7 linked regions of the Homo sapiens genome follow. The protein of the gene in region 7 purifies or fractionates together with the protein of the main gene of each other region. This does not show direct contact. Each region holds a gene or a part of one and is shown on either strand. Other genes may lie near its edges. The genes, in order: ADCY9, CANT1, ATP2B2, FGFR1, PTPRS, FLVCR1 and GINM1.

Region 1 (4,082 bases), on a different chromosome or scaffold from region 7:
GAAGCCGACGCGGAGCTTGAAGTTGAACCACAGCATGTTGTTGTTGAAGTCGTCCACCACGCGCATCATCTCCTTGGCGAACTCGAACAGGATCTGCAGGTGCTCCTGCGGGTGGCTGCCGTCCTGGGCCTGCGCGGTGTTCAGCCCTGACGCCGCCATGTACGTGGCTCCGATGGTCTTGATCTTCTCGATGCTGCTGTAGTCCGGCTTGCTTAGGAGCTCGTCAAAGTCCCCGATGAGCTCGTTGAGGACCCGGTAGCACTCCTTGCCGCCCTCGTAGTTCTCCTCGTAGAACTCGCTGAAGTTGACGATGCTGGCGAAGATCACCCCTCCGCTGTCATGGTTCTTGGAGTAGGTCTGGGACACCTTCAGCTGCTCAGCCACGTGGTAGGGGATGATGTTCCTCAGCAGCCAGTCTGCCTGGTCCCGCATGCTCTGGATCTTGGTGCGGTGAAGATCCGCTTCCACGTCTCCGTGGTAGTGGAGGCGGTAGCTGACTTCAAATTCGCGATTCAGGAACCAGACCAACAAGAGCAGGAGAAAGAAGACGAGAACCACCTCCTGGCCGATGAGGCTGGCGGGCCGCCGGAGGTCACGCGGCACCGAACTATTGCACGGGTTCCTCTCGGAACTGGAGAGCAAAGACACGGGAAAGGGAGAGGTTACTGCTCGGCGCTTCCAAGCTCAGAACAGCCCCGCTAGCTACGCAAAGCTTTGTTGAGTCCAGGCCTTCAACAACCTGAAGCTGTCAAGCTGCCCATTCCTGGTTTGGGCTGGCTGAAGGTATGGAGGGATAAAGACTAACTTTTGAAACTGATTGATTTCATTTTGTTAAATAGAGGTGGGGTCTCACTGTGTTGCCCAGGCTGGTCTTGCACTCCTGGGCTCAAGCAATTTTCCTGCCTTGGCCTCCCAAAGTGCTGGAATTACAGGCGTGAGCTGCTGTGCCCAGCCCTGTAACTAACATCTTTAGTAAGTGCTTGGTAATCGTTTTTCTTTTCTTTTTCTTTTTCTTTTTTTTTAGAAGTCTTTAGCTTCTTTCAAAAATCTTTTCTTTTCTCTCTCTCCTTTGTTTTTTTAGAGACATGGTTGTTGTCCAGGCTGGAGTGCAATGGCACAATCATGGCTCACTGCAGCCTTAAACTCCTGGGCTCAAACGATCCTCCTGCCCAGCCTCCTAAGTAGCTGGGATTACACGCATGTACCACCACACCTAGCTAATTAAAAAATTTTTTTTTTGAAGAGACAGGGTCTTGCTGGTTGCCAAGGCTGGTCTTAAACTCGTAACTTCAAGCCATCCTCCCACCTTGGCCTTCCAAAGTGCTGGGATTACAGGCTTGAACTGTGCTTGGCCTAACATCTTTTTTTTTTTTTTTTTTTAAGATTGAGTCTTGCTCTGTTGCCCAGGCTAGAGTGCAGTGGTGCGATCTTGGCTCACTGCACCCTCTGCTTCCTGAGTTCAAGTGATCCTCCTGCCTCAGCCTCCTGAATAGCTGGGACTATAGGTGTGTGCCACCATGCCTGGCTAATTTTTGTATTTTTAGTAGAGACAGGGTTTCATCATGTTGGCCAGGCTGGTCTCAAACTCCTGATCTCAAAGTGATCAGCTTGCCTTAAAGTGCTGGGATTACAGGTGTGAGCCACTGCACCCGGCTTTTTGCTGAATGAACTTTTTGAAAGTAAGTTGCTGACATGGCACTTCAGCTCTAAATATTTCAGCATGTATCTCCTAAGAATAAGGATATTTCCCTATGTAACTACAATATCATCATCATACCCAAGAAATTTAACATTCTCTGATATATTTGGTTCTTAGATTTCTTTTTTTTTGAGACGGAGTTTTGCTCTTGTTGCTGGTGAGATCTTGGCTCACTACAACCTCCGCCTCCCGGGTTCAAGTGATTCTCCTGCCTCAGCCTCCCCAGTAGCTGGGTTCACAGACATGTGCCACCACACCCAGCTAATTTTGTATTTTTAGTAGAGACGGGGTTTCTCCATGTTGGTCAGGCTTGTCTCAAACTCCCGACCTCAGGTGATCCGCCCACCTCAGCCTCCCAAAGTGCTGGGATTACAGGTGTGAGCCACCGCGCCTGGCCTTGGTTCTTAGATTTCTAATCCAATAAACTTATCATTTTACAAATAGCTTTTATGAGTTCTATACTCTCTACCTGTATAAAAAAGTTTGACAAGACGCCATCTCCCCTGATTCTGGGTTAGTTCTTTTTGCCGAAATCACTCAGGACAATGCTAACATCTGAACCAGTGCCATTATTTTCTCATGGCTGTGCAGTGTTCCAGCACTCGGAAATTCTGTAATTTAGCCAGATTCCCCCTGATGGAACTGGGCCCGAGTCTGTCTTTTCTTACCACAAACAGTGTCACAGGGAATATTCCCCTACCCCTATCTTTGTGCGTATGGAAGTGCTGAGTCATTTTAAATATTGCACATTTAGAATTTCCTTAGAAATTTCCAAATTGCCCTTCTAAACAAGGCTGAACCAGTTTCTGCTTTTTTTTTTCTTTTTTTTGAGAAGGAGTCTCGCTTTGTTGCCCAGGTTAAAGTGCAGTGGCGTGATCTCGCCTCACCACAAACTCCGCCTCCTGGGTTCAAGCAATTCTCCTGCTTCAGCCTTCTGTGTAGCTCGGACTACAGGTGCACGCCACCATGCCCAGATTATTTTTGTACTTTTACTAGAGACAGGTTGGTCTCAAACTCGTGACCTCGTGATCCACCCGCCTCGGCCTCCCAAAGTGCTGGGATCACAGGCGTGAGCCACCGCGCCCAGTCTCTGCTCCCTTTGATAACTGAGCCTGCTTTCAGCGGGGCTGTCTCCACTTCAGTGGCACTGATGGAGACAGCCATGGTCAGGGGGCTGCAGATGAGTGGTGAGTAGCACAATTTCTTTTTTTCTTTTTCTTTTTTCTTTTTTGAGACAGAGTCTCACTCTCTAGCCCGGGCTGGCATGCAGTGGTGTGATCTCAGCTCACTGCAACCTCCACCTCCTGGGCTCAACGATTCTTGCGGCCCAGCCTCCTGAGTAGTGTGCGCCACCAGGCCCAGCTAATTTTTGTATTTTTTTTTTGGTAGAAACGGGGTTTCACCATGTTGGCTGGGCTGGTCTCAAACTCCTGACCTAAAGTGATCTGCCCGCCTCGACCTCCCAAAGTGCTGGGATTACAGGTGTGAGCCACCACACCTGGCTGAGTAGCACAATTTCTTAAAGTTTGTTTGAAATATATATATATATATATATATATATATATATATATATATGTATTTTTTTTTTTTTTTAAGAAGAGACAGGGTCTGTCTCTGTCATCCAAGCTGGACTGCAGTGGTGCGATCCTAGCTCACTGCAGCTTTGACCTCCCAGGCTAAAGCGATCCTCCCGCCTCAGCCTCCAGATTAGCTGGGACTACAGGCACACACCACCACACCTGGCTAATTTTTTGAACTTTTTGTAGAGATGAGGTCTTACTATGTTGCCCAGGCTGGTCTCAAACTCCTGGGTTCAAACTGTTCTGCTTCTGCCTCCCCAGTGTGCTGGAATACATTTTTTCCCATTTAAAAATACTACATACTCATCATAGAAAATGTAGAAAAAAATAGACAAAAAAGATTTGTCCATCGTCCTGCCATCCAGAGGCAATCACTATTAACATTTGTTGAACTGCATTCTAGTCTTTTTCTTTTTTACAACACCGTGACTGTTCTGTTCATGTAAATGCTGTACCCTGATGCATTCCTCCCGCGCACAGAGTAGGCCAGTTGATTTGATGCAATAATGGGCTTGGTCACTATATACTTATATATGCGACTGGCGGATCCACAGTTTAGACAGCTCCATCACACTGGAAAGCTCAATTCTTTTTCTTTTAGAGACAGGGTCTCGCCATCTTGCCCAGGCTGGTCTTGAACTCCTGAGCTCAACCAATCTGCCTGCCTTAGCCTCCCCAAGTGCTGGGATTACAGGGATGAGCCACCACGCCTGGCCAAAACTCAATTCTTCTTTTTTCTTTCTTGCTCTGTTGCCCTGGCTGGAGTGCAATGGCGCGACCTTGGCTCACTGCAACCTCCGCTT
Region 2 (4,082 bases), on a different chromosome or scaffold from region 7:
TCAAAACCCCAGCCAGGCCCAAGAAGTCTCCACTGAGCTCGAATTACTCTATCTTACCTGCTATGCCAATCCCGCCTACATTTCTTTTTTTGTTTTTCTGAGATAGGGCCTCGCTCTGTTGCCCAGGCAACAGTGATCACGCTCACTGCAGCCTCAACCTCTGAGGCTCAAGCGATCCTCCCACCTCAGCCTCCCAAGTAGCTGGGACTACAGGCGTGTGCCACCACGCACAGCGAATTTTTTTTTTTTTTTTTTTTTTTTTTTGGAGACAGAGTTTTCCTCTTATTGCCTAGGCTGGAGTGCAATGGCACGATCTCGGCTCACTGCAACCTCCGCCTCCTGGGTTCAAGTGATTCTCCTGCCTCAGATTCCCTAGTAGCTGGGATTACAGGCATGCACCACCACGCCCGTCTAATTTTGTATTTTTAGTAGAGATGCAGTTTCTCCATGTTGGTCAGGCTGGTCTTGAACTCCTGACCTCAGGTGATCCACCTGCCTTGGCCTCCCAAAGTGCCAGGATTACAGGTGTGAGCCAACACACCTGGGGCACAGCTAATTTTTAATTTTTTTTATAGAGATGAGGCCTCGTTATATTGTCCAGGCCAGTCTTGAACTCCTGGGCTCAAGTGATCCTCCTGCCTCAGCCTCCCAAAGTGCTGGGATCACAGGTGCGAGCACCCGCACCCCCCCTTACCTGCATTTCTGACATGCGTCTTAGACATTTCAAGACACGAGTCCTGTGCAGCTTTTCCCTCAAGCCTACTTGCTCCTCGTCTCCCCTTGGGAAGGGTAGTGGTGACGGGTGGCCACCGTGTCCACAGTGGTCTGGTTCAAGCTCTCTCAGGATCCTGGGAGATGTGCTTTTCTGTGTGAATATACACTTCGATAAAAACATAAGGCACTGCCACCACGAAAAACCTGACTGGCCTCATCCTCCGTCTTCCTTCCTCAGCATTGACTCCGTGGACAGGTTCTGTCCTCTTCCATGGCCCTTCCTCACCATGCCATGCCGGCTGCCTCCCTCCACCCCTCCTGCCTCTCCGCCCCTGACACTCCCATACCCCCCGCCATGAAGTTGCCCTGCCAGCTGCCCCCCACCAACATCCCCTGACACTCCCTCGCCACCTGCCATGAAGTAGCATCCATCAGATGGCACACTCCCAGCTTCAGCGGCTTCCTCAGGTCCTGGGGTGAACCCACTCTGCTCCCGCTCAGCCCTCACACTGTACCATCTCCTCTGCCTGCCGGCTGGCTACATAGACCTCCTTCTGTCCCCTGACCACACTGGCCCTGGCAGAGCCTGCAGTTCCCCCTGCCTGGAACAGTCGGGCCTGCTCTTCGCACCAGCAGCTCGGTCTCTCCTACGGGGCATCAGCTCCCTGGGAAGACTTGCCCACTCGCCCTCCCTCCCATGCCGCTCCGGCTCTCCCACCGTCCCTGCCTGGCTAGGTGATTATTTCTGCTCCTGGGGCAGGGATCTGGCCACTGTCACAGCCCCAGCACCTGACGCACTGCCAGGCAGGGAGCAGACAGTCTGCACGCATTGGCTGAAGGGAAAGAGATGCCAGGTGAGCCATTAGCCACTTCTTCAACAGCCCCTCTGCACTCTACCGGGGGCCCCACCTTAGGCATATTATGAACCCACAACCTGGATCAAGCACCCCAAAGATCGAGCTGCTCAGCTGCCACATCTGAGCTGCAGGCCCGGGAAGACGGTGCTTGCCAGCACAGAACAACGGTGCCTGCATAGACTGCTGTCAGACATCGTGAGGTGTCGTCGTCACCAGCCCCTGGAACCCCCATGTTCTTCCCTGTTCAACTCCCTCAGCACTCCGGAGAGCCACTGTCCTCACCTTCACCATTCCTGTCAAATCTCCGGCCCACTTCTCCCAGGAGACCACTCTGTGGCCAACTTCAGCAGCCGAGGCCCCTGGGTGGGGCTCACACCTGCCACTCAGGTCAGTCCCCCCAGCCGCCGGGCACCTGCTCTTCTGGTTCCTCCCTTCCATCCACAGGCTGCCCCAAGTCGCCCACCTTGTCACCATTTTACCTCCAGACCCCACACTCCCACAGACACTCAACTGCTGCTGAATAAATGGCGAATCTGTTAATGAAGGAAAACCCTTCCCTGAGTCCCCGGCACCTCTGTCCCTTCCCACCCCCGCCCAGGCCCCCTCGCCCACCATGGTACAAGAGCACCCACACCTACACCCTCTCCTTCCCTCTGGCTAATCCTCAGAAGCAGCCACCTGAAGCCTTCACCAGTGGCAAACCCAGTGAGCACATTGTCAGTGTCCCTCCTCGAGGCAGGGGGGCACTCTCTGTGGGCCTCCTCCCAGGCAGGTCTTCTCGGCCCCCACTGCTGGCAGCCCACTGACCTCTCCCAGGGCCTGCCCTCTAAGGTGAAGACCCCCACGCCTTTCTAGCCTGACCTAGTCTCTGAGCCTCCTCATCCGATACCCACAGGCACCGCAAACCAGGTCCTCCTCAGGAACTCCCTGTCCTGGCAGTGCCGGCCCTCAGGAGCCATCCCAGGAAGCAATTCGTCCTAACCCTCCTCCCTCCCCAGCCCCACGTGTCCCACCCAGCTTGAGACTCGCTTCCCTTCTCCCCATCCACACAGCCTCGGCTCCAGTTCCATCTCACCCTGATGACTCTCAGAGTCTTGGTCTAATGATCTAGACCAAGCTTGTCCAACATGTGGTCCAACACAAATTCGTAAACTTTCTTAAAACATGATGAGATGAGATTTTTTGTTAAGCTCATCAGCTATCAATGGATTTTATGTGTGGCCCAAGACAATTCTTCTTCCAATGTGGCCCAGGGAAGCCAAAAGATTGGACACCCCTGATATAGACCATCTGGGCTCAGCCAAGGGACTTCCCTTGGCCTCAGTTTACTTCCCGGAGCCATGCTGATGGGGTTAGAGAACTGTGCACAGGGGCTGACTGCTACTGCTTCTCACTCACTCTACAAGTACCCTCTCGCCTGCTGGGAGGGTTGCAAACTACCACCCGTGGGCCAAATGCAGTCTCCCGCCTAGTGTGTAGATGCGGCCTGTGTGGCCTGGTATGTGGTTGCAGCTTGGTGTGTAGACTCTGCCTGGTGTGTAGACGCGGCCTGCGTAGACGCGGCCTGCTGTGTAGTCACGTCCTGGTGTGTAGATGTGGCTGATTAAAGCCAGCTAGGACTCCTCCCTGGCATGCTGAGTCTGGCTGCACCGTTGAGTGGTCGCAACAGACTGTGGAGGCTGAAAATACTGACTCCCTGTCCCTCGACAGATCCCTGGTCAAGACCATCTCAAATCACCCTCCACAAAACTGACAGAATAATTTTTCCAAAAAGCAAGTCTGGATTCCAAGTCTAGTAGATCCCAATGCCTTCCATCTGAAGGACAAACGTCTCAGCCTGCAGAGAAAGCCTCAGTGGGTTTTTCCCCCTGCACTCCCAGGAGCAGGACCTCTCCCAGGTCGCTGTGCAACACTGCACGCCTTCCTATTCCAGACTCCTGGCATCTACACCGTGGCACACGCTCCCCACCCGGGAGGCTCATGTCCTCTGACCACATGGAACCAGAGGTGTCTGAGTCCCGGCGTCTCTGCCCCTCTGGGGAATCAGTGTGACGGAGGCAGGGGCCTTTCCTCCAGGAGCTCAGCACAGTTGGGGAGACAGACTTTGAACAGTCCCGTGTGGTCAGTGTTACCTCGAGGTCACGCTGATTCCCCAGAGCTAACAGAGGGGCAGAGACGCCAGGGCCTCAGCCACCTTTGGTTAAACAAGGGACTGCTTCTAGTGACAAGAGAACTCTGTGTACCTTCCAGAAAATTCCTTTAACTTCAGCACCAGAACACCTTCCCTTGGGCTTCATCTCTCCTTCAGGACCCCAAGGAATTATTTTATTTTGCAAAAAAATTTCAAATCAGATGCCTTTGCCACAGCCCATGCTGGTGTATGAGCTACCACTGGCTGCCGGGGTGCCTGGCTGCCGGCGCCTGCTGCAGGCAAGAGTTTGCATGTTCTTTAAAAAGCTGGGTTCTTTTTCGGGGGTGGGGGGTGGGGGGGCTCTTTTGTTTGTTGCCAGC
Region 3 (4,082 bases), on a different chromosome or scaffold from region 7:
AGGCTGCTGCTAAGGTGAGAGCTCTCTGGTCTAAAGGGGAGGAGGATGGGACCGGTGTTGCCTTCCCCGAGAAATCCTGGCAGTGACTGCCTAGTGACGGTATCTCATGGAAATGTGACTCAGCCACCATCTGCTGAAATGCATCTCCATTTCATCTTGGCTCCCCGGTCCTCCCCAGCACTGCGTTTCTGTGCTGACGAATGAGCACTGAGAGGCTCCTTCCCTGCTTTCTGCTTCTGTCCTGCCGCTATGGGTCGTGGACATTTGCCATCAACAGGCTCCCTGTGGCCCGCGCCTCCTACTGGAGGCACTGAGGGAGGCGCTCCCACCAGCACACCGGGTTACCTGCTTGGCTGCAGGGGTTGTGTTGTGGGTGTTCTGGTTTTGGATGGGGGTAGAGGCCCTTTATAAAGTTTCAAGGGGTGAGCTGGAGTCTACTTCTCATCAAAGAAGCTGGAGGCTAAGACTGACACTATGCCAATTGGAGAAGACCAGAACCAGGGGCTCCCCTGCAGATCAGAAGCGCCTGACTGGAAACATAGCAGGGCGATGGGAGGAAAGACAGACTTGTTCCCTATGGGGCCCGAAGCCATGGGTCCGGGAAAGAGCTAGACAAAGCCAGCAATGAGTGATCTAGATCAGAAGTGGTGGCATGAGGAGATGAGCTTGGCAGGAGGGAGATGAAGGAGGGGCCACAGTCCCAGGCTATCTCTCAGATAAAGGAGGGCAGGATGCTGAAGGGCATATCAGGTCCCTCTGGGCCTGCTGGCACCCAGGCAAGATGTGAGGCTCGACCCACCATTTTCTACCAGGGGTCAAGCTGAATGGGCCAGGGACCTTGTCCTTTCCAGGAAGGGCTTAGAACTTCAGCAAGTTCCAAGCTCAGCCACAGGGAAAGGTGTCTGCAGGGCAGCTGATGCAGTCAAAAGTGCAAGGGGAGGAGTGACAGGAAGCGGGCAGAGACTCTGAACTGCTGGGGTGCAGCGTCTAGGCTGTGAGCTCCTAGGTGGCCTGGGGATCCCTGGCTGACTATGACCTCTGACCTGCAGTGACCTCTTGGCTCAACTGTCCCCCTTGACCATGACCCTCATTACTGTGGGTGCCCCCTGACCAACTGGGAAAGTCTGGTTGACGTGACCCTCTCCTGGGTGGATCCCAATGTGACTGACTGGGACCCTAAGGGGCTTGCTCCCCTTGACCCACAGTGACCCTTCTGCTGACTTTGACTGCAAGACTGGGACCTCTTGTCCAACTCCAACCCTTGCCTTGGTGGTCCAGGCTTTTCCTGACCACATATGACCCTAGGCCAGTGGGACACTCTGTGTCCCCTCCATGTCTGTCCCCCTCTGGCTGCCGGGACCCTGTGGTGGGTTGGGACCATTTGGTCACTGATGTCCTCTTGACCAAGGGTGACCCCTTGACTGAACCAGACTTTTTGGCCACTTGGGACCCTAATGACCCTCTGACTGACCCTGGTCCACTGAGTGACTGCCACCGCATGACTGGCTACGCTCTCCTGACCAACGGGACCCTCTTCGGTGGCTGGGACCCTTCATCCCCCTGGGCCTGATTGTGACCGGCTGCCCCCCATGTCCTCTGGTGCCCCAGCCCCTGCCCGCCTGGGAGCTGGCGTGGGCAGTGCCAGCCGGAGGCAGTAAGGAGTCACACTCACGCCCGGCTGCAGCAGGAGGAAGGCTGGTCGGAGAGGAAAGAGCATTGGACAACGACACGCGACTAGGGCTAGAGAGATTGGCTACATCCTGGCTCTGGCTGGTGACCGAGGACTGTCTCCGCAGGGCCCCCTGAAAGGAGGCCCCGCTCTTGAAAGTATTGACTACTTCAATCTGCAACGGAGGAGAGAACGAGACAAGTTGCGAGAAGAACGAGCACAACGGCTACATGACTGACAGGGCAACGTCACAAGAACAGCCGCAGCCACGGCAACAACGACAATGTCACTTAAATCAAAACAAAAATACCAGACACACTCCAAGGCTCTGAAAAACGTCTGCTCAGCTCTGGGCCCACCTGCAGGCCCCAGGGTCCCCGGGAGGACACAGGGGGTCCGGCCTTTGTCCTGTGCTAGTGGCTCAGGGGCCAGTGGGCTGGCCAGTGGGGGAGGCAGTGATTAAACATGGTATCTGGAGGGAAGAGAGCAGTGTTCAGCCTCCCTCAGGTACAGGCGTGGAGGTAGAGGGTGTGGTGGGGGTCCTGAGGTGGACAGAGCTTGGCCTAAATTCCAGCTCTGTCACTTACTAGCTAGCTGACCTTGGGCAAGCCACCTCTCTGAGTCGAGTTTCTTGTTCTTAAGAAGGGTCAATGCCACCTGCCTGGCAGGGTTATCTGTAAGTGGCAAAGCACCTGACCCGTGTTAGCATTCCGCAAGAGGCAGGCAAGACAGGCGCCCCTGCCCACTCAAGAAATCGCAGTCCTTGCTTCCTCCCGTAATCTGGAGACCCCTGCGTGGCTTTGCCGCCAGGGCAGTGACAGCACCAGGGACATATTCACTGAGTTGTCCTGGACCTCCCAGGAGGTGGGGGCAGGCTGGGAGGGGTGGCTGCGGGGCCCTAACCAGGGAGGGTGAGCCCAGGCCCGTGTCAGGCACCTCCGGGTCTGAAACCGGCTTCCAGTCCCCACCCCAGCTGTGCCAGCTCAGTAGAAGGGGCCATCTCCTGGACCTTGGTAACCTCTAAAACTGGGGGAGTCACATCTACCTCCCAGGGCTGTGAAGGTCACATGAGGTGAGGTTTGGGACAGGGTACAGAGGGGTGGGAGGTGACCCAGGTGAGCTCTCTGCTACATCGGATGGAAATGAGGTGCTGGGCCACAGCTGGCAGGATGGTGGCCAGGTGGCTGCTTCTACACTGCACTTCGCCCAAGCATGCTGGGGCATGGAGGAGCTCCCACTCCAGCTCCCCAGATGGTCTGGGCAAGAGACCCACAGAGTCCCTTCTGACCCTCCCCTCGCAGGGCTGTGACAGCACTTGTGAGCTACAACACCTGCTCCAGGCATAAGGGGACCATGTGAGAGCATGTGGTATGTGTGTGGGGGGGTCGGGGGAGGCGCGCAGGTGTGTCGTGTGCCACGTGGCAGCCATGCTCTCTCTGCTCTGGGGAAGAAACCTGCTTCTGGCTGGCTACGCCCTGCACCTGTGCTCCCCTGGTGTGCTTGGTGTGTGCATGTGTGTCTGTGTGTGCTTGAGGATGACTGACCTTTGCTCCCCAGAGCCTCTCCACCCCCTAGGGGAAGCTGGGGAGAGCAACTGAAGCCCCCGTGGAGGCGGCGGACCCCCTGACCACCACGCCCTGGGGGACCCTGGGCGACCTGGCCTGCAGCTTCTGTCCAGCCTCACACGGCCCCTGTGGGTGGGTGCCCCCAGCCCTGAGCGACAGTCCCCTCACTCACCTCTGCCCTCAGAGCCACCCTTCCCCACCCTCTCAGGGAAATCCCCCTGGAGACCATGGTGGGTGTGACCCCTACCACTTCCCCGTGCTGCCCTGAGAGGGCACAATGGGACCTCTCTGAGGAGGCCGTGCTGTTCCTTAGCAGCCACAGGAGTGGGTGTGCAAGTGGCTGGTGAGAGCTGGCCGGGACCCCTCTGTAGCCACCCTCCCTCAGCACCAGAGCTGGGCCCTGGGGGGCAGCACAAGCACACTCACCTCCATCCCCTGGCCCGCCCCGGCCAGGCCTGGGCCCAGCCCCCAAGAGCCTCCTGTACCTGTGTCTGGATCCGATTCAGGCCTCGGAACCACAGGATCTGGCCCCGCCGCAGCTCCCGCTCCGCGTGGTCGATCTCCTCCACGTCCTCGTTGAGCTCCTCCTCCGGGATCTCCTCCTTCTGTGTGAGCCTGCCTGCCTCCTTGAGGAACTTGAGTCTGCTGGTCGGGATGGTGGCGATGACCTGCAAGGGACCCTGTCTGTCAGGACGGTGGGGCTGTCCTTCCCAGTGGCCTTCTCTCCCTGACACCCGCTCCTCTACCTCCCTCCTCCTACCCGCTCACCCAGGCATGTGATCAATCTACTCCTTCACCCACCTCACCTGTTCCTCAGCCCAGTCTTTGACAATGTCTTTTTTTTTTTT
Region 4 (4,082 bases), on a different chromosome or scaffold from region 7:
ACGTTGCTCCCGTGTAACTTTCAGGCAGGCCCAGGGAGCGAAGGGAGATGTTAAGTGAGATTTATTACCTTTCCCTTTTAGTTTTTTTTTTTTTTTTTTTTTTTAACGCAGAGTCTCACTCACTCTGTCACCCAGGCTGGAGTGCAGTGGCGTGATCTCAGCTCACTGCAACCTCTGCCTTCTGGGTTCAAGCAGTTAGCTTGCCTCAGCCTCCTGAGTAGCTGGGACTACAGGTGCCAACCACTATGCACAGCTAATTTTTGTATTTTTAGTAGAGATGGGGTTTCACCATGTTGGCCGGGCTGGTCTCAAACTCCTGACCTCAAGTGATCTAAAGTGCTGGGATTACAGGCGTGAGCCACTGCGCCCGGCCTTCTTTCCCTTTTACAAGTACAGAACAAGTGGACTTCAAAAGTCCAAAGCATTTGATTAAAAAAAAAAAAAAAAAAAAAGAATCACTGCTTCAAATGGAATGTTCTATTTGTGTTTAACCCACTCCCTCCAGGACTGGAGCAGGGGTTGTGAGTGGAGACAGTGGCCAATGACCTACAGAGCAGTTTTAGCACCAGCAGCAAAGAGAAGAGAAGGGAGGGCCAGTATATCTCTGAGACAGCTAAGCTAGGGGAGGATGAGGTCTAACTCTGGGACAAAGAGGTAAACAACTTTCCCAGCTTCTGGTTCCTTCCTGTTGCGAGATCCACTGGAGATTTAGGCAATTACCTTCCCTGGATTAATGGAGCATTCAGGGACAATGAATGTCTGGGAGTGAGAGGAAAAAGGAAGAAAATGCCATTACTCCTCGTCCTCATATGGCTTAGAATTTATATATGGCATTTGTTTTTCCAACTCTTCGTAAGAGATGCTCTTATCATGCACCCCATTTGCCAGAAAGATCGTACGTAACTCAGGACACAGGGCTAAGACTGGGAAACGCTTGGTGGAAAGGCTCTGGTTTCGGGCAATGAAAAGGCAGGGGTCCAAATGCCTTCCTTGTGTAGCTGACCCCAAAGCCCCAGTGACGTTGCTCTCAAAGCTTATTACAGACCAGCACCACCCATCCCTGCAGCCCTCTGTTCCCAGCTCACCTCCACTTTGTGACCTCTGTTACTAGTCCTGGGGGATGTGGCTAGATCCCTACTGAGATGGAGTGTGTGTGCCTGAAGCGTGAGGAATGATCCCATTCGGGGGCAACTGAGCCTGCCCACAGGAACTTGAGCCCCCGAGACAGTGGTCTCCTTCCCAGTAGACTGGCCCACGAAGACTGGTGCCATGATTACCTTCAAGATCTGGACATAAGGCAGGTTGTCTGGGCCAATCTTGCTCCCATTCACCTCGATGTGCTTTAGCCACTGGATGTGCGGCTGCGGGTCACTGTACACCTTACACATGAACTCCACGTTGCTACCCAGGGCCACTGTTTTGTTGGCGGGCAACCCTGCTTGCAGGATGGGCCGGTGAGGGGACCGCTCTGTGGAAGATGGGAGAGGAGGCACTTGTCATGGGGACCTTGCCATGGCTAAAGAGGGGTGGGCTCACCTGCGCCCCACTTGGCTTTCCCAGTGATGGGTTGTAAACCTCCCAGCACTTCTGCTGAGCCCAAGCCTCTCAAAACAGAGCTGGGGAAAGGGACACCCTCTCTTCAGGCCCTAAGCCATCAGGATCCTCCTCCCCAAGGCAGTCATCATATTTACAGTCACAGTAAGTCGCTCATGCTTTAATGGAGAACCTTCTAATTCAGTTGCACCCCCAGACCTCAGCACAACCTGCTCCTCCTTAAAAAACCAGAGTCACTTTGACTCCTGCTATTCAAAGTGTGGTCCACGAGCAGTGCTACCAGCATCCCCTAGGAGCTTGTTAGAAACGCGGAATCTCAGATCTTACCCCAACCTCTTGGATCAGAATCTCCTTTTTACCTTTTTTTTTTTTAAAGGCAGGGTCTCACTCTGTCACCCATGCTGGAGCACAAGGGTGTCATCATAGCTCACTGCAGCTTCGAATTCCTGGGCTCAAGTGATCTTCCCACCTCAGTAGCCTCAGTTAACTCAGCTGGTACTACAAGTACATGACACTGCACTAGGCTAATTTTTAAATTTTTTTATAGAGACAGGGTCTCACTGTGTTGCCCAGGCTGGTCTCACACTCCTGGCCTCAAGCAATCCTCCAGCCTTGGCCTCCTAAAGTGATGGGATCACAGGCGTGAGTAATCCCATCATGCCACCTGGAGCTCATAAGCCACTGCTCCTGGCCACAATCTCCTTCTTAGACCATATCATCATAATCAAGAAGAACACTGGCTGAGAGATTCTGTACCCAATGATCTCTAGGGAGTGAGTTTCAGAACTCCTAGAAGGAAAAGGTTGCGGTAATAGCTCCAAGAGGCTCAATGTTCTTCCCAGAGTCTCCTGTGATGCCCTGAAGTTGGCACAGGTGTGCAGTTCTGCATTAGCAAGGTGTCTGACCTCTCTGAGCCTATGCGCCTGTGCTCCTGTGCAGGGCTAGACTAATACTGCCCACCTTGCAGGTGTGCCATGAGCATTACAGGGCAGGTATTTAAGGAGCCTGGCATCTTGCTAGCATTAAGCGACAGCTCCTATTACGCTACATTTAACACCTCTCCAACAACGCCTCCTTCAGGACAGACTCTGAACAGCACCTTCAATTTCACAGTGACAACCAGCTTTGACCGTGTTACTGTCTGATCTTAACTCTATTTTACAGATAAGAAAAGTGAGGCTCAAAAGGGAGAAGTGACCTGCTCAAGGTGACAAAGCCAAGAAGTGCCAATCGCTATCCTGACTCTGCCCCTAAGAAACCTGGACACCCCGGCTGTGTTCTCCAAGCCTGGCTCTTCCCACTAAACTCATTCCTCCTGCTGCCTCTGCCCTCTTACCCACGACATCCAGCTGGTATGTGTGGTTGATGCTGCCGTACTCATTCTCCACAATGCAGGTGTAGTTGCCCTTGTCAGAGGGCACCACAGAGTCCATTATGATGCTCCAGGTGGCATAACGGACCTGAGGGGAAATGCCAAAGGGATACATTGAGGGTCCAGAGGAAAATGCAGGCCCCATGACAATGTCGGCACCCCGTGGCACCTGCCCTCCATATCAGAGCCTGGTGGCACAGGGCCCCAGGCTGCAGGGTTGGCTAGGACAAGGCGTGGATTGCCCCCCTACCAGCCCGTTCACACTCTGCAAGCTGGCAGATGGGGTGTAAAGACTCCAGAAGTCTCCACTGTGACGTTCAAGATCATTCGTGATCCGGACAGATGTGCCTTCTGCAAACACTCCCAAATACACCAAGAATGTTCCCAACTGTGCACCTCTCCTATTACACTAAGAATCCAGCCCCCACTGTCCTTGACAGCTCATTTCAAAAACCATCTCCTCCAGTCCAGTCTCTGGTCAGAACTGTGCTCACCCTTTCCTCTCTGCCTACCAAAGCACTGATCACAGTCTACTTTTTACGGTAGCTGCTCATGGACATTTGCCTCCTATCAGACTGCAAAATTTTTATGGGCAGGAACGCTATCTTGCAGCATTTAAAGCATGGTGTCTTGCATGTAGTGAGTGCATGGTGAATTAATTTAAAATATTTCTGGCTGGGTGCGGTGGCTCAAGCCTGTAATCCCAGCTCTTTGGGAGGCCCAGGCGGACAGATCACTTGAGGTCATGAGTTCAAGACCAGCCTGGCCAACATGGGGAAACCCCGTCTCTACTAAAAATACAAAAATTAGCTGGGAATGGTGGCTGCACATCCCAGGTACTCGGGAGGCTGAGGCAGGAGAATGGCATGAACCTGGGAGGTGGAGCTTGCAGTGAGCCAAGATGGCACCACTGCACTCCAGCCTGGGTGACAGAGTGAGACTCCGTCTAAAAAAAAAAAAAAAATGCTTACACCCTTTAAGTTAGTAATTTCACTTGTAACAATCTGTCCTAAGGAAGCACGCTTAAAAAAATGCTGACAGAGATTCACTGCAACATTATTTATTATGGTGAAAAACCAGAAAATACCTAATATCACAAAATAGTTCATTAAATTATAGGACTTTTTCTGTTGTTTTTTGGAGACAGAGTCTCACT
Region 5 (4,082 bases), on a different chromosome or scaffold from region 7:
TCAACCTCTCTGTGCTTCCGTCTTCCTCATCTGTCTATGGAGAAGAGTAACAGTGCCCACCTTGAGGGATTGTTAGGAGGAAGAAATGAGTTAACGTGTGTAAGCACAGATTCAGAACGGCACCTAGAATGTAGCTGCCACCTCTATTCTGTTTTTGTTATTATTTTTGACAACATGGGAGCTACACTGATATGTTGAAGGACCTGCCCAAGAGGGGCTCTCCAGTGTCCACCCGCGCCCCGCTACCCCGCCCTCAGCCCCCCGATGGGGTCCAGCACCAGGGAGATGTCAGGATGACTCAGCCACTGCAAACTGGGGCGTTCCCCTTCACTGGCTGCTTAATCAAGGCCGCCCCACTTCTGCGGCAGGACTGGGCGACTGGCGGGAGCTGAACCACAGGGGGCCTGGATGGTGGACAGGGAGGACACGTGGCTGCCTTGGGAGCTCCAGGCACTCCAGGGACTCCACATGTGGCTCCCAACTTCCAGAGCCCCTGGTGGGCCCGAGTGATCACCAAAGGGGGGAGTTTGGGGGGGATTTGGGGGTTTAACAGCAGTCATTTGATGGGCACTCAGGAAAGTGATCGGTTGACAAGCATGGTGTGCGAGCGAGCATGCATGCATTCATTCGAATATTCACCAGTTCATTAATTCATTCATTCCATCAGGATTGCTGGAAACCTGCTGCTAAGGAACTTGGAAGCCAGAATCTAAGCAGCTGTGGGGCTTGGGCTAGTAATAAAGCTGTTCTGTGCCTCAGTTTCCTGATCTGTAAAATGGGTGCTTTGACATTGCCTCTATCATAAGTGGAGACAGATGAACTGGTGTGGGGGGCACCAAGGACAGAGACTGAGAGTGGCACCTGCTGCTTTGTGGCTGGAGGTGAGGGGGGCGGAAACAAGAAGAGAAGAGTTGACTTTAGCTGGGGAAGACCACACAGGACCCCCCACCCCAAGGAGTTCGAATCGCATTGTGTGTGTGTGTGTGTGTGTGTGACAGGACTCACACTGTTGCTCAGGCTGGAGTGCAGTGATGCCATAATGGCTCACTGCAGTGTCTTAACTCCTGGGCTCAAGCAATCCTCCCACCTCAGCCTCCCAAGTAGCTGGGGACTATAGGCATCCACCAGCACGCCCAGCTGACTTTTGTATTATTATTATTATTATTATTATTATTTATTTATTTTTTTTTTGTAGAGATGGGTTTCACCATATTGCTCAGGCTGGTCTCAAACTCCTGGGTTCAAGCTATCTGCCTGCCTTGGCCTCGGAAAATGCTGGGATTCCAGGTGTGAGCCACCACACCTGGCGAATTGGCATTTTTTATTTATTTTTTATTTTATTTTATTTATTTGAGACAGTCTTGCTCTGTCGCCAGGCTGGAGTGCAACGGCGTGATCTCAGCTCACTGCAATCTCCGCCTCCCGGGTTCAAGTGGTTCTCCTGCCTCAGCCTCCCGAGTAGCTGGGATTACAGGCACCCGCCACCACATCTGGCTAATTTCTGTATTTTTGGTAGAGATGGGGTTTTACCCCATTGGCCAGGCTGGTCTCAAACTCCTGACATCAAGTGATCCGCCTGCCTTGGCCTCCCAAAGTGCCGGGATTACAGGCGTGAGCCACCGCGTCTAACAAATTGCATTTTTTAGATGTGCGGTCAGAGTTCTCTGAAAGCCCCCAGAGCTGGGCTGCCAACATCAGGATCAACAGAAAACCTGGAATGTTGGGAATGCTTCTTGGAACATCTGTCAGGCCAAGGCCCAGAGAGGGAGAGCAACTTGCCCAAGACCACACAGCCATGCCTGCCTGCCTGCTGCTGGGCCTTGCGCAGGAGGATGGACAGGGACCCCTTTCACCAGTCCAAAGGGAGAAACCGAGGCAGGAAGCCATGGCGGGTGTGTGATTCTCAAGCCATAACGCCTGTCAGGGCTGGAGTCTCCACTCCAGCGGGTCGTATGGGCCAAAAAGGCTTCTTCAACCTCCAAGGAAGCCCTGAATGGCTCCAGGGCCAGATCTGTTGGTTTTTCCAAGGAAAAGCAGAAATCTAGATTTTAAGTAAAATTGCCCAATTTTGGCTGGGCATGATGGCTCACGCCTGTAATCCCAGCACTTTGGGAGACCAAGGCAGGCAGATCACCTAAGGTCAGAAGTTTGAGACCAGCCTGGCCAACATGGTGAAACCCCGCCTCTACTAAAAATACAAAAATAATCTGGGCATGGTGGTGCATACCTGTAATCGCAGCTACTTGGGAGGCTGAGACAGGAGAATCGCTTGAACCTGGGAGGCGGAGGTTGCAGTGAGCTGAGATCATGCCACTTGCACTCCAGCCTGGGCGATAGAGTGAGACTCTGTCTAAAAAAAAAAAAAAATTGCCCTATTTTAACATCCTTGGGTTGAAACATCTTAACATGGCACAGTACAGAAATCCAGGGCCACCGTGGACTTTGACCCCTTCCCCAACAATTAAAAGTTGCGTGACTTCTGACACCTCCATTGCCGTCCGCGGGCCTCAGTTTCCAGGCCTGTGAAATGGGTTTAAGACTCCCAGCCACCTCTGCGGTTCTTTAGAGGCACCAGTGTGATAGCTTACAGAGAGTGCTGAGAACAGGGCCTGGGCCAGCGTCCGCGCTCGATAAACGTTGGCTCTGATTATATTAATATTGGTCATAATGATAAACTTGACTTAAATTAAATACTGCGTAGAAGGAAGCCGGCTGTCCCGCGGGGCAGGGCTGCGAATTATCTACTGGCGGCAGGACCTGCTTCTCCATCCCTCGTTCTTTCTGTAGCGCAGTCGTTTGCTCTTGGGGCTGGAGCACCCGGGTTACCAGTATTACTCGTTGAGTGTACTGCTGTGGTTCTCAGCCGGGGTCACTTTTGCTCCCCTGGGCACACTTGGCAACGTCTGGGGACATTTTTGGGTGTCATGTCCAGGGGGGTGCTGCTGGTATGGAGTAGGTGGAAGCCAGAGATGCTGCTCAACTCTGTGTAATGGCCAGGATGACCCCATCCCAGATAATGACCCCACCCTCATGTACACTGTGCTGAGGTTTAGAAACCCTGATTTTGCCAGGCATGGTGGCTCACGTCCATAATCCCAACACTTTGGGAGGTTAAAGCGGGAGGATTGCTTGAGCCTAGGAGTTCAAGATCAGACTGGGCAACACAGTGAGACCTCATCTCTACAAAAAACAAAAAAAAATCAGCCGAGGGTTGGGGTGCACACGTACGGTCCCAGCTACTGGGGAGGCTGAGGTGGGAGGATTGCTTGAGCCTAAGAGTTTGAGGCTGCAGTGAGCTATGATTGCATCACTCCACTCCAGCCTGGGCAACAGAGCAAGGCCTTCTCTTTTTTTTTTTTTTTTTTTTTTAAAAAAAGAAGCCCTGACTTATGCTGAAGACCCAAGACAGCGAGAGAAATCAGGCAGATGGTGCCTTTGTCCCTGAGCGTCCACCCAACACGCTCCCTGACGTCTCGCGGGGCCAGAACGCTTAGATTGCTAATGGGTTCCCTCTGCACATCTGTCCTGGTTCCACTGCCCCATTGATTATTGGAAGTGGGTAATTGCCCCTGTCGGATGAATTCTAGAGAGTGTGAACTGCCGGGGTTTCCGGCAACAGTGCTGGCTTCAACTCCCAGATATCAGCAGGGTGCAGAGAGGCTGCCAGGTCCCAGGACTTTTTCTCTTGGCCCCATCTGGCCCTGGGAGCCCAGACTCCGGCCCTGCTGGGGAAGGGCATTAGGGGTCTGAACGCCCCAGGTTCGGATCCTGACAAAGACCCTCCCTGGCTGTGTGAGATGACCTCATTATTTCCTTCCCCTGAGCCTCAGTTTTCTCATCTGTGAAATGGGGACGAGTCTTGCCTGCTGCATCACTGGGAATTCAGTGGTGTCACATTGATAACGGGGCCAGGAGCCCAAGGTGCACAGGAGGAGCTGGATGAGTCTACCCTCTCTCCCCACAGCTTCGTGAACCGTTAGGGGTGATGAGGTTGGAACCTCAAACCCACATTCTCCAAACAGCTGCAACAGAGGAGAACTAACCCAAGCGGGCGGAAAGTCCCCCGTGGTGGGGGCCGCTAA
Region 6 (4,082 bases), on a different chromosome or scaffold from region 7:
ACAAATCAGAAAGAGCAAACAATCCAAGGACACCAGAAGACATTTGTGTGTCTGTGTCTGTGTGTATTGTTCTTATGTGATATTCAGCCTTAACAGTAATCAAGGAAATACAAATCAAAGCCAGAGTAAGATGTAATATCACACACATTCACATTGGCAAAATAATTTAAAATCTGGTGAAAACAAATTTGGCAAGGATGTGGAGCAGTAGGAACTCTGCTGGTAGTATGAACGGATAACAACTACTTTGAAGAGCAAATTGCTTATATCTAGAAAGTAGAAGGTCTACTCTAGATATATACTTAGAGAAGCTCTTATGTATAAGAACAAAAACATAATACTCATTGCAGTCTTGTTTTAAACAGTGAAAAACTAAAAAAGAAACCCTTAAGTGTCTATTGACAGGACGAGATAATTAAATTGAAGTATATTAACATAATAGAATACTGTACAACAGAAAACTAATGAACTACAACAAAAAATATCAACATGGATACATCTCAAAACCATCTCAATATAGTGTAACAAGAGCAAGTTGCAGATGGATACAAATAATATTTATATACTTACAGAATACTTCTAATTGTTTATGAATATGCATATATGGTAATATATAAAATGATAAGCACCAAGCTCAAGCTAGGGCTTGACTTTGGTAAAGAATAGGATTGGGAAAAGTCTGAAAAATGAATCTGAAGCAAAGATGGAAAAATGTTAATGTTTGCCAAATCCGGGTGATATATGAGGATATTTGTTGTATTCTCTATGCTATTTTATATTCTTAAAATATTTAATAATAGATAAATAATAAACTTAAGTTTTAGCTTAATTTAGGTTAAGAGTCTTACCTAAATTCATACAATACATGCTAGGAGACATCAGGATTCAAACCTATCCTGTGCTTCTCATAGCCAGTTGTTTTTATTGTTCACTTCTAAAGTATCCTTTGGGAGGCGAGGCAGTAGAATTGCTTGAACCCAGGAGACGGAGGTTGTAGTGAGCTGAGATTGCACCACTACTCTCCAGCCTGGGCAACAGAGCAAGGCTCCATCTCAAAAAAAAAAGTATTAACTGATTTTGTCTTATGAATTTTCAGTAAGTCTTTGATACAAAAAGGTAAGATCTCTGAAGCACAGTTTCTGTTAGGCTTTGCACATTTGTTGGCTGTAGTAGTACATTGTAGGAATTCAGTAAACAATCCATTGCTTGACTGGTTGCCATATATGTGTTGCATGTGGGGGTATGATTTATGGTCAGTATATCTCAATCTAAATAATAATAGTATTAGGACAGAGTTCTGCTATTACATCTTTAGTACAGTTAGGTGTTAAATTCATTAGTCCAGGTTCTGAAAGGGAATGACAATGGTTTTTAATTTCCTTTATCAACTGTGTTAAGAAATGTATTTCCACAATTGTCACATAATATTCCATGTCACTTCATGAACTGGTAAATGACACACTTTTAGTATTCTCTTTATTATTGTAGGTATCATGACTTAATATCATCTTTATTTATTATTGTAGGTATCATGACTGGTGCCTTTTATTCAGTCTCAACGTTATTAAATCAAATGATATTGACATATTATGAGGTAAGCTTCTGCTTATATCAGATTGCATGCCTGGCCAAAAATTTTTCTTTAGCAATATAATTGTCGTTAGCAGGGTCATGAGATTAAGGGTTATGACATTGTTGCTATCAAATATTTACATTTGTTTTAATTGAGAATATATTTGTTAAAAAATGAAATTTCCACAACTTTATATATCTAATTGGCTTTTATTATCAATTCGTTTATTGGACAGCATCCCATCTAAAGATTTAGAAAGGTACTGATGAGCTGAGCAGAGGAGATGGGCTTTATAGGCAGAAAAAGGCTGAAGAAAGCAGAAACAAGGAACAAAGAGCAGATTGGTTGCTACAAAGTTACTTTCCTTATAGGAGTAAAACAAAGGGGACTGGGCCCCATCTGATAGGTTGCTATGAATCTCCTTTTTTTTTTTTTTTTGGAAAAGTGGCCCATTTTAAAGTTCAGTTTGATTATGTGACACCTAGCACTAGTGACACCATTCTATGTGGTCTGGTCTGTTGGGCCTACTGTGGGAGCTCACTCCAAAACAATGGCCTCCCATCATTTTAATTTAACATATTTAATCCAGTTTATAAAGCACATAGTATGGCCAGGCATAGTGGCTCACGCCTGTAATCCCAGCACTTTGGAAGGCCGAGGCGGGTGGATCACCTGAGGTCGAGACCAGCCTGACCGACATGGAGAAACCCTGTCTCTACCAAAAATACAAAATTAGCTGGGCATGGTGGCGCATGCCTGTAATTCCAGCTATTCGGGAGGCTGAGGCAGGAGAAACACTTGAGCCTGGGAGGTGGAGGTGGCGGTGAGCCGAGATCGTGCCATTGTATTCCATCCTGGGCAATAAGAGTGAATCCCCATTTAAAAAAAAAACAGGCTGGGCGCCGTGGCTCACACCTGTAATCCCAGCCAAGATAGCGCCACTGTACTCCAGCCTAGTGACAGAGTGAGACTCCATCTCAAAAAAACGAAACAAAACAAAATACACACACACACAATATGGAAAGCAGAAGTTACTATCCCTGTGACAATACCTAAGTTTATTTTTAGGAAATAATATGATTGGTTATATGGAAAAAGACAAAACATTTTAAGGGAACTCAGCATAAATATAGATAAATAAATATCAAGTTTTGATTGACGTATCTGCTTTTGAAAGGATAAAGCAGTTGTACTATGTAAAAGCTATCGATTAACCTCCTTTTCAGATATCTATACAGTGTCATACCTTGCTTAGTGACAGGAATACCTTCTGAGAAATTCGCTAGGCAATTTCATTGTTGTGTGAATATCATAGAGTGTACTTACGCAAACCTGATGGTAGAGCCTGCTACATACCTAGGCTACGTGGTATAGCCTATTGCTCCTAGGCTACAAACCTGTATAACATGTTATGCTACTGAATGTTGTAGGCAGTTGTAATACAATGGTAAGTATTGTGTATCTAAATATATCTAAACAGAGAAGGTAGAATAAAAATACAGTATTATAATCTTACAGGATCATACTGTATATATGATTCAGAGTTGACCTAAATGTAATTATGGAGCACATGACTATCTATACTTAAGAATCCTAACAAAAATCATTGTACTTCTAACCATAGAGGATTAAGGAAAATTTACCTTTTTTATTTCTTCTATTATTTTAGGCTTTTTTTCTGGTTTTAAAATATAATGCTTTTATATATTCTTTACCTGCCCTCCCCTCCCACACTGACACATGTACTAAATCTTCCTACTGTGTGCTTAGTTTTATCTAATTATTTTCATTGACTATGAAAAGGTGTGGGAATGTGAAGAGTCTGAATTAGTTAATCCATTTATTTGATCAACTTCTTACGCAAATTTTTTTCAGGGAGAAGAAGTCAATGCTGGAAGGATTGGGCTAACGCTAGTAGTAGCTGGAATGGTGGGCTCTATTCTTTGTGGCTTATGGCTGGATTATACTAAAACATACAAGTAAGTGAAAGTAAATACATGTATGGTGTATAACCAAAGGTATTTTGATTTTAAAGGACAATTTGCTTTTTATTTCAAGAAATTTAAAACATGTTATTACTTAAAGATACGGATTCTAAACACTAGTAGGTTCTCTTCACTTAACAAGTGTTTCTTTTTTTTTTTTTTTTTTGAGACGGAGTCTCGTTCTGTCGCCCAGGCTAGAGTGCAGTGGCGCAATCTCGGCTCACTGCAACCTCTGTCTCCCGGCTTCACGCCATTTTCCTGCCTCAGCCTCCCGAGTAGCTGGGACTACAGGCACCCGCCACCATGTCCGGCTAATTTTTTTATATTTTTAGTAGAGACGGGGTTTCACCTTGTTAGCCAGGATGGTCTCGATCTCCTGACCTTGTGATCCACCCGCCTCGACCTCCCAAAGTGCTGGGATTACAGGCGTGAGCCACCGCGCCCAGCAACAAGTGTTTCAATACTCTATGTATTGTATTATTTTATTGGTCACATTTATTTCAATTCTGAGAACTTGGATACCT
Region 7 (4,513 bases):
GCGGGTGGATCACTTGAGGTCAGGAGTTCGAGACCAACCTAGCCAACATGGTGAAACCCCATCTCTACTAAAAATATAAAAAAATTAGCTGGGCGCAGTGGCGGGAGCCTGTAATCCCAGCTACTTGGGAAGCTGAGGCAGGAGAATCACTTGAACCTGAACCCAGGAGGCAGAAGTTGCAGTGAGCCGAGATCATGCCAGTGCACTCCAGCCTGGGAGACAGAGTGAGACTCTCTCTCAAAAATAAAAAACAAAAAATAAAAAAATAAAAATAAAAATACAAAAACTAGCCAGGTGTGGTGGCACGCGCCAGTAGTACCAGCTACTCAGGAGGCTGAGATAGGAGAATCACTTGAACCTGGGAGGCAGAGGCTGCAGTGAGCCGAGATCATGCCACTGCACTCCAGCCTGTGTGAGACAGAGCGAGATATTCCGTCTCAAAAAAAAAAAGACTTTTATTTTTCAATCTTATGTGCAATCTTGTATTACCTCAACTTCTGACAACTGCATACATAAAAACAGAAAAATGCTTATAGTCCAATAAATCTGAGTCATCGGAAGAAGGCAGAATTTTCCTGACTTCAACCAGTTTAATTTATATCAGACTGGAAACGAGGATGGACAGATGTGATAAAGCTAGTAATGTTAAGGGTAGTCTGGTTCTGCACTGTTCAATATGGTACACACTAATCACTTGTGACTATTTACATTTACATTGATTAAAATTAAATAAAAATTTAAAAACAGTTCCTCACTGGCACTGGCCACATTTCAAGTGCTCAGTGGCCACAGCAGTCTAGTGGCTACCCACAAGGTGAGAAAAGACATAACCATCAAGGCAGAAAGTTCTACTGGACAGCACTTACACAATATGTGGGACCACTGTGAAATTCTTTCCTATTGGAAATGTTTCACAATAAGACGTTGAGAAGACTTAGATCAAGGGACTTCAGTTTCCCACAGACACAGTCCAGGTAATGAGATTCTCTTTCTAGTTGTTCAGCACTCATTTAATCTGTGAAACTTTTTGTTGTTGAGACAGGCTCTTGCTATGTTAACCAGGCTTATCATCCAACACCCAACTCTTGGTCTCAGGCAATCCTCTGGCTTTGGATTCCCAGTAGCTGGGATTACAGGCGTGAGCCACTGCACCCAGCGTAATATGTGAATTTCCGAGTTTAGATCTGGACTTTCTGAAAGTGAAATGAAGGCCCAAGAAGGGAGAACTGAAATAGTAAAATCATCACTAAGAGCCAGCCGACAATGCAGTGTATTTTAAGCCTGCAGTCAAAATGTATTTTTCGCAGATTATATAGACGTAAACATCTCATTGACACATAGGTGTCAATTATGAATCTTTAAAACTTGAAAAATAGGAAAATAATGTCCGTATTTCCAGAACTTTTTAGAACTATTTCACTTTTATTTGGTCCCTTGGTGCCTGTCCATCACATTCCTATTGTTTAACCAGATGCAACTGTGGTCCACATATAATTTCAGATATAGGTGGTTCTTATGGCAGGCAATGTCGTGGCTTCTTGGAATGCCCTGCAGAACTGAGACATGCTCATCATTTTTGTACCCACGTGGGGTAATGTCATTATCCTAAAACGTTAACACTTGGTTTTTTTGTTTTTGTTTGTTTGTTTTGTTTTGAGCTCCCTCACCCAGGCTGGAATGCAGTGGCACGATCTCGGCTCACTGCAACCTCTGCCTCCCGGGTTCAAGCAATTCTCCTGTCTCCGCCTCCCGAGTAGCTGGGACTACAGGCACCTGCAACCACGCCCAGCTAATTTTTCTATTTTTAGTAGAGACGGGGTTTCACCTTGTTGGTCAAAGTGACACTTACCGTGCCCTTCGCCTTTGTATTTAGAGTGTTCATATTCAAGTCTTGACTAGGAAGAGGTGTACCGACATAGTTTCTTGTCATTCTCAGAACACTTGCTCTTTAAAATATTCAAACTTTTCCCTACCATTCTACTGAAAAAAGGCTGATACTGGCCTAGGTAGGCACGACTCTACGGCAGGAATGGTGAGCATCAGCCACGTTTTAATGTTAGGATGCCTCGATTCTCCCACCTCAGCTGGCATCAGAAGCACCTGCAGGACTCTCCAACCCGGACTGCTGGGCCCCGCCCCCAGAGGCCGGGCTGAGTCCCCAGGGGATGCGGACACCGCCGATCGCGCCCCGCCGTGAGAACTTCTCCTCCAACATCCGACAAAAACATTACGTCGCGCGAGGGCCAGGTCTCTCCCTCTGCCCACCTGAGCCCGGCGGAGCCCCGCAGCCTCGGAACGGCGGACCCTCGCGATCGCAGGCCGAGCAGGCACAAGTGGCCTGGAAATGCGCGAAGTGGGCAACTTCCACACTTCCCGAGCACACAAACATTCCTTGCCCAAGCGCTGGCTCTACCCCGGGAAGGCGCCATTACGAAGGCCTGATCACCGGCAACCGCGCGCTTCGACGGCAAAGCCCCGTCAGGTCGCGCGCCGGCTTGGGCCGCCGGAGAGTCGGTGTGGAGTGGCTCGAGGCTCACTCACAGCGACGCAGCCCCAGTGGGTCCCTTTCCTCTTACCTCGGCCTCCCACGCCGCCCCCATTTCCTGGGGTGCTTCTCCCCACACCTCCTTCGGGGGCCCGGACCCCCGCCCCTGCCCGCCGGTGGGATGTGGGAAGCGTCACTGTGGACAGCCCGGGCCTCCCGGAGAGTCGGAGTCGTAAAGCGGCCAGCCAGGCCCGCCCTGCCCTACCTGTGGGGCTCCGGACAGCGGCGGCGGCTCGGGGGCGCCCGTCGTCAGCCAGCCGGAGGCGGGTAGCGCCACGAACAGCAGGAGCCGGAGGGCGAGCGACCCCGGTGGAGCGCCCTCCATCTTGGACAACCCGGGCAGAGGGCAGCCGCGGCCGGGAGGTGAGGGCGGAGCCGGCCCGCGGGCGGGACGGAGCTTCGGCGGGAGGGACGGGGAGGGGCGGGGAGAGACGGGGAGGGGCGGGACGGGCCCTCCCCTCCCCGGGCGGCCGCGGAGAGGCGCGGGGACGCTCCGAGATCCGGCTCGCCAGGGAAAGGCGTTTGCGCACGCGCAGCGCCGCGCGGCGTCGAGGGGCGGAGTGAAATCTTGGAAGGTACGGCCCCTCATTAGACCCGCCCTCAGGATTGGACAGGACTCCAACTGGAGCGATGTAAATGTCCTCGTAACCATTATTTTTAAAATTAGTATTTACACACATGCATGTGTCTGTGTGTGCACATGTACATGTACCTATACGATGAAAACAACGGTAATATTTCAGAAAACTGTTATACATTAAAAATGAAACATCGCATTTACAGGGGAAGTTTTTATTAAGTGGGTAATTCCCCACCCTTGGCTGCACGTGGGACTCTCCCGGGCAGCTTTAAAAAGTACTGGGGTCTTCCTGAACACCCCACTTTCCAGCCTGGGCTGCGGCTCGGGCCCTGGTGGTTTTTTAATTTTCTCGGGTGATTCATTGTGGGGCCAAGGTTGAGGATGCGCCATGCTTACTGTTCAGCATTCTGCCGACCCCTGGAGGCGGCGCGGGGACAGCGCTCAGCTGGAAGGAAGCCAGCGCACCTGGGCTGTCAGTGCCTTTTTGGTCAGTATCGTAACTCTAAAGTGAAAGTGTTAGACTTTTCTTCCACCTTGCAGATTTAAAAAAAAAAAAAAGTTACGGAACCCTGTAAAGCAGAGTAGCAAGAAATTCAAGCATTTTAGATTAACAGGATTGCATGTTGATTGAGAAAAACTTGGAAACTTGGCCATTCAGGCAGAATAAGAGTAATATTTAGTCTTCCTTTGAAATAAAACTTTTGACATGAAATAAAACTTTTGACATGAAAAAGGAAACAAGAATCTATTTCTCTCTTTGAGCCCCCTTTACTCCTTTGAACACCCTCCTCCCACAGGCCTGCTGACCGCCACCGCCCCCTCCCCCGGCCCCGCCCCAGAATAAATTATAAACGTTTTGGCTAAAGACTCCTTTCAACTAACTCCGGGCTTACTCTGAGATTCCCCACGCCATTGTTAAGCTACAAGTGATTTCACAGCGAAGCCCCACACACTTCTGGGTTCCATCTGCAAACTTGGCCTTTTCCTTTTTTTCCTACTGCTGGAATTAAAAATGAATTTGGAGATGGGCGTGGTCATTTGTGCCTGTACTCCCAGCTATGCAGCAAACGCAGGCAGGAGGATCGCCTGAGTCTATTAAAAAAAAAAAAAAAAAAAGGAATCTAGAAGCCGGGTGCAGTGGCTCACGCCTGTAATCCCAACACTTTAGGAGGCCGAGGCGGGTGGATCACTTGAGGTCAGGAGTTCGAGAATAGCCTGGCCAACATGGTGAAACCCCATCTCTACTAAAAATACAAAAATTATCCAGGCATACTGGCACGCACCTGTAATTCCAGCTACTAGGGAGGCTGAGGCAGGAGAATCGCTTGAACCCAGGAGGCGAAGGTTGCAGTGAGCCAAGATCGCGCCATTGCACTCCAGCCTGCGCG

Evidence for each region.
Region 1: the proteins of GINM1 (region 7) and ADCY9 purify together in Homo sapiens (affinity purification with mass spectrometry; 3 studies listed by BioGRID and IntAct, with this or other methods). This does not show direct contact.
Region 2: the proteins of GINM1 (region 7) and CANT1 purify together in Homo sapiens (affinity purification with mass spectrometry; 3 studies listed by BioGRID and IntAct, with this or other methods). This does not show direct contact.
Region 3: the proteins of GINM1 (region 7) and ATP2B2 purify together in Homo sapiens (affinity purification with mass spectrometry; 3 studies listed by BioGRID and IntAct, with this or other methods). This does not show direct contact.
Region 4: the proteins of GINM1 (region 7) and FGFR1 purify together in Homo sapiens (affinity purification with mass spectrometry; 3 studies listed by BioGRID and IntAct, with this or other methods). This does not show direct contact.
Region 5: the proteins of GINM1 (region 7) and PTPRS purify together in Homo sapiens (affinity purification with mass spectrometry; 3 studies listed by BioGRID and IntAct, with this or other methods). This does not show direct contact.
Region 6: the proteins of GINM1 (region 7) and FLVCR1 purify together in Homo sapiens (affinity purification with mass spectrometry; 3 studies listed by BioGRID and IntAct, with this or other methods). This does not show direct contact.

What each region holds. Positions count from the first base shown.
Region 1 is NC_000016.10:3,966,336-3,970,417, forward strand, and holds part of ADCY9 (adenylate cyclase type 9), read right to left. Parts: intron 632-4,082; coding exon 1-631. UniProt on the Homo sapiens protein: Adenylyl cyclase that catalyzes the formation of the signaling molecule cAMP in response to activation of G protein-coupled receptors.
Region 2 is NC_000017.11:78,999,406-79,003,487, forward strand, and holds part of CANT1 (soluble calcium-activated nucleotidase 1), read right to left. Parts: intron 1-4,082.
Region 3 is NC_000003.12:10,334,457-10,338,538, forward strand, and holds part of ATP2B2 (plasma membrane calcium-transporting ATPase 2), read right to left. Parts: intron 3,903-4,082; coding exon 3,720-3,902; intron 1,845-3,719; coding exon of another isoform or gene 1,673-1,844; intron 1-1,672. UniProt on the Homo sapiens protein: ATP-driven Ca(2+) ion pump involved in the maintenance of basal intracellular Ca(2+) levels in specialized cells of cerebellar circuit and vestibular and cochlear systems.
Region 4 is NC_000008.11:38,423,232-38,427,313, forward strand, and holds part of FGFR1 (fibroblast growth factor receptor 1 isoform 1 precursor), read right to left. Parts: intron 3,015-4,082; coding exon 2,891-3,014; intron 1,469-2,890; coding exon 1,278-1,468; intron 1-1,277. UniProt on the Homo sapiens protein: Tyrosine-protein kinase that acts as a cell-surface receptor for fibroblast growth factors and plays an essential role in the regulation of embryonic development, cell proliferation, differentiation and migration.
Region 5 is NC_000019.10:5,330,416-5,334,497, reverse strand, and holds part of PTPRS (receptor-type tyrosine-protein phosphatase S isoform 1 precursor), read left to right. Parts: intron 1-4,082. UniProt on the Homo sapiens protein: Cell surface receptor that binds to glycosaminoglycans, including chondroitin sulfate proteoglycans and heparan sulfate proteoglycan.
Region 6 is NC_000001.11:212,881,845-212,885,926, forward strand, and holds part of FLVCR1 (choline/ethanolamine transporter FLVCR1), read left to right. Parts: intron 1-1,526; coding exon 1,527-1,594; intron 1,595-3,448; coding exon 3,449-3,552; intron 3,553-4,082.
Region 7 is NC_000006.12:149,564,772-149,569,284, reverse strand, and holds the start of GINM1 (glycoprotein integral membrane protein 1 precursor), read right to left. Parts: upstream 2,911-4,513; 5' UTR 2,871-2,910; coding exon 2,751-2,870; intron 1-2,750.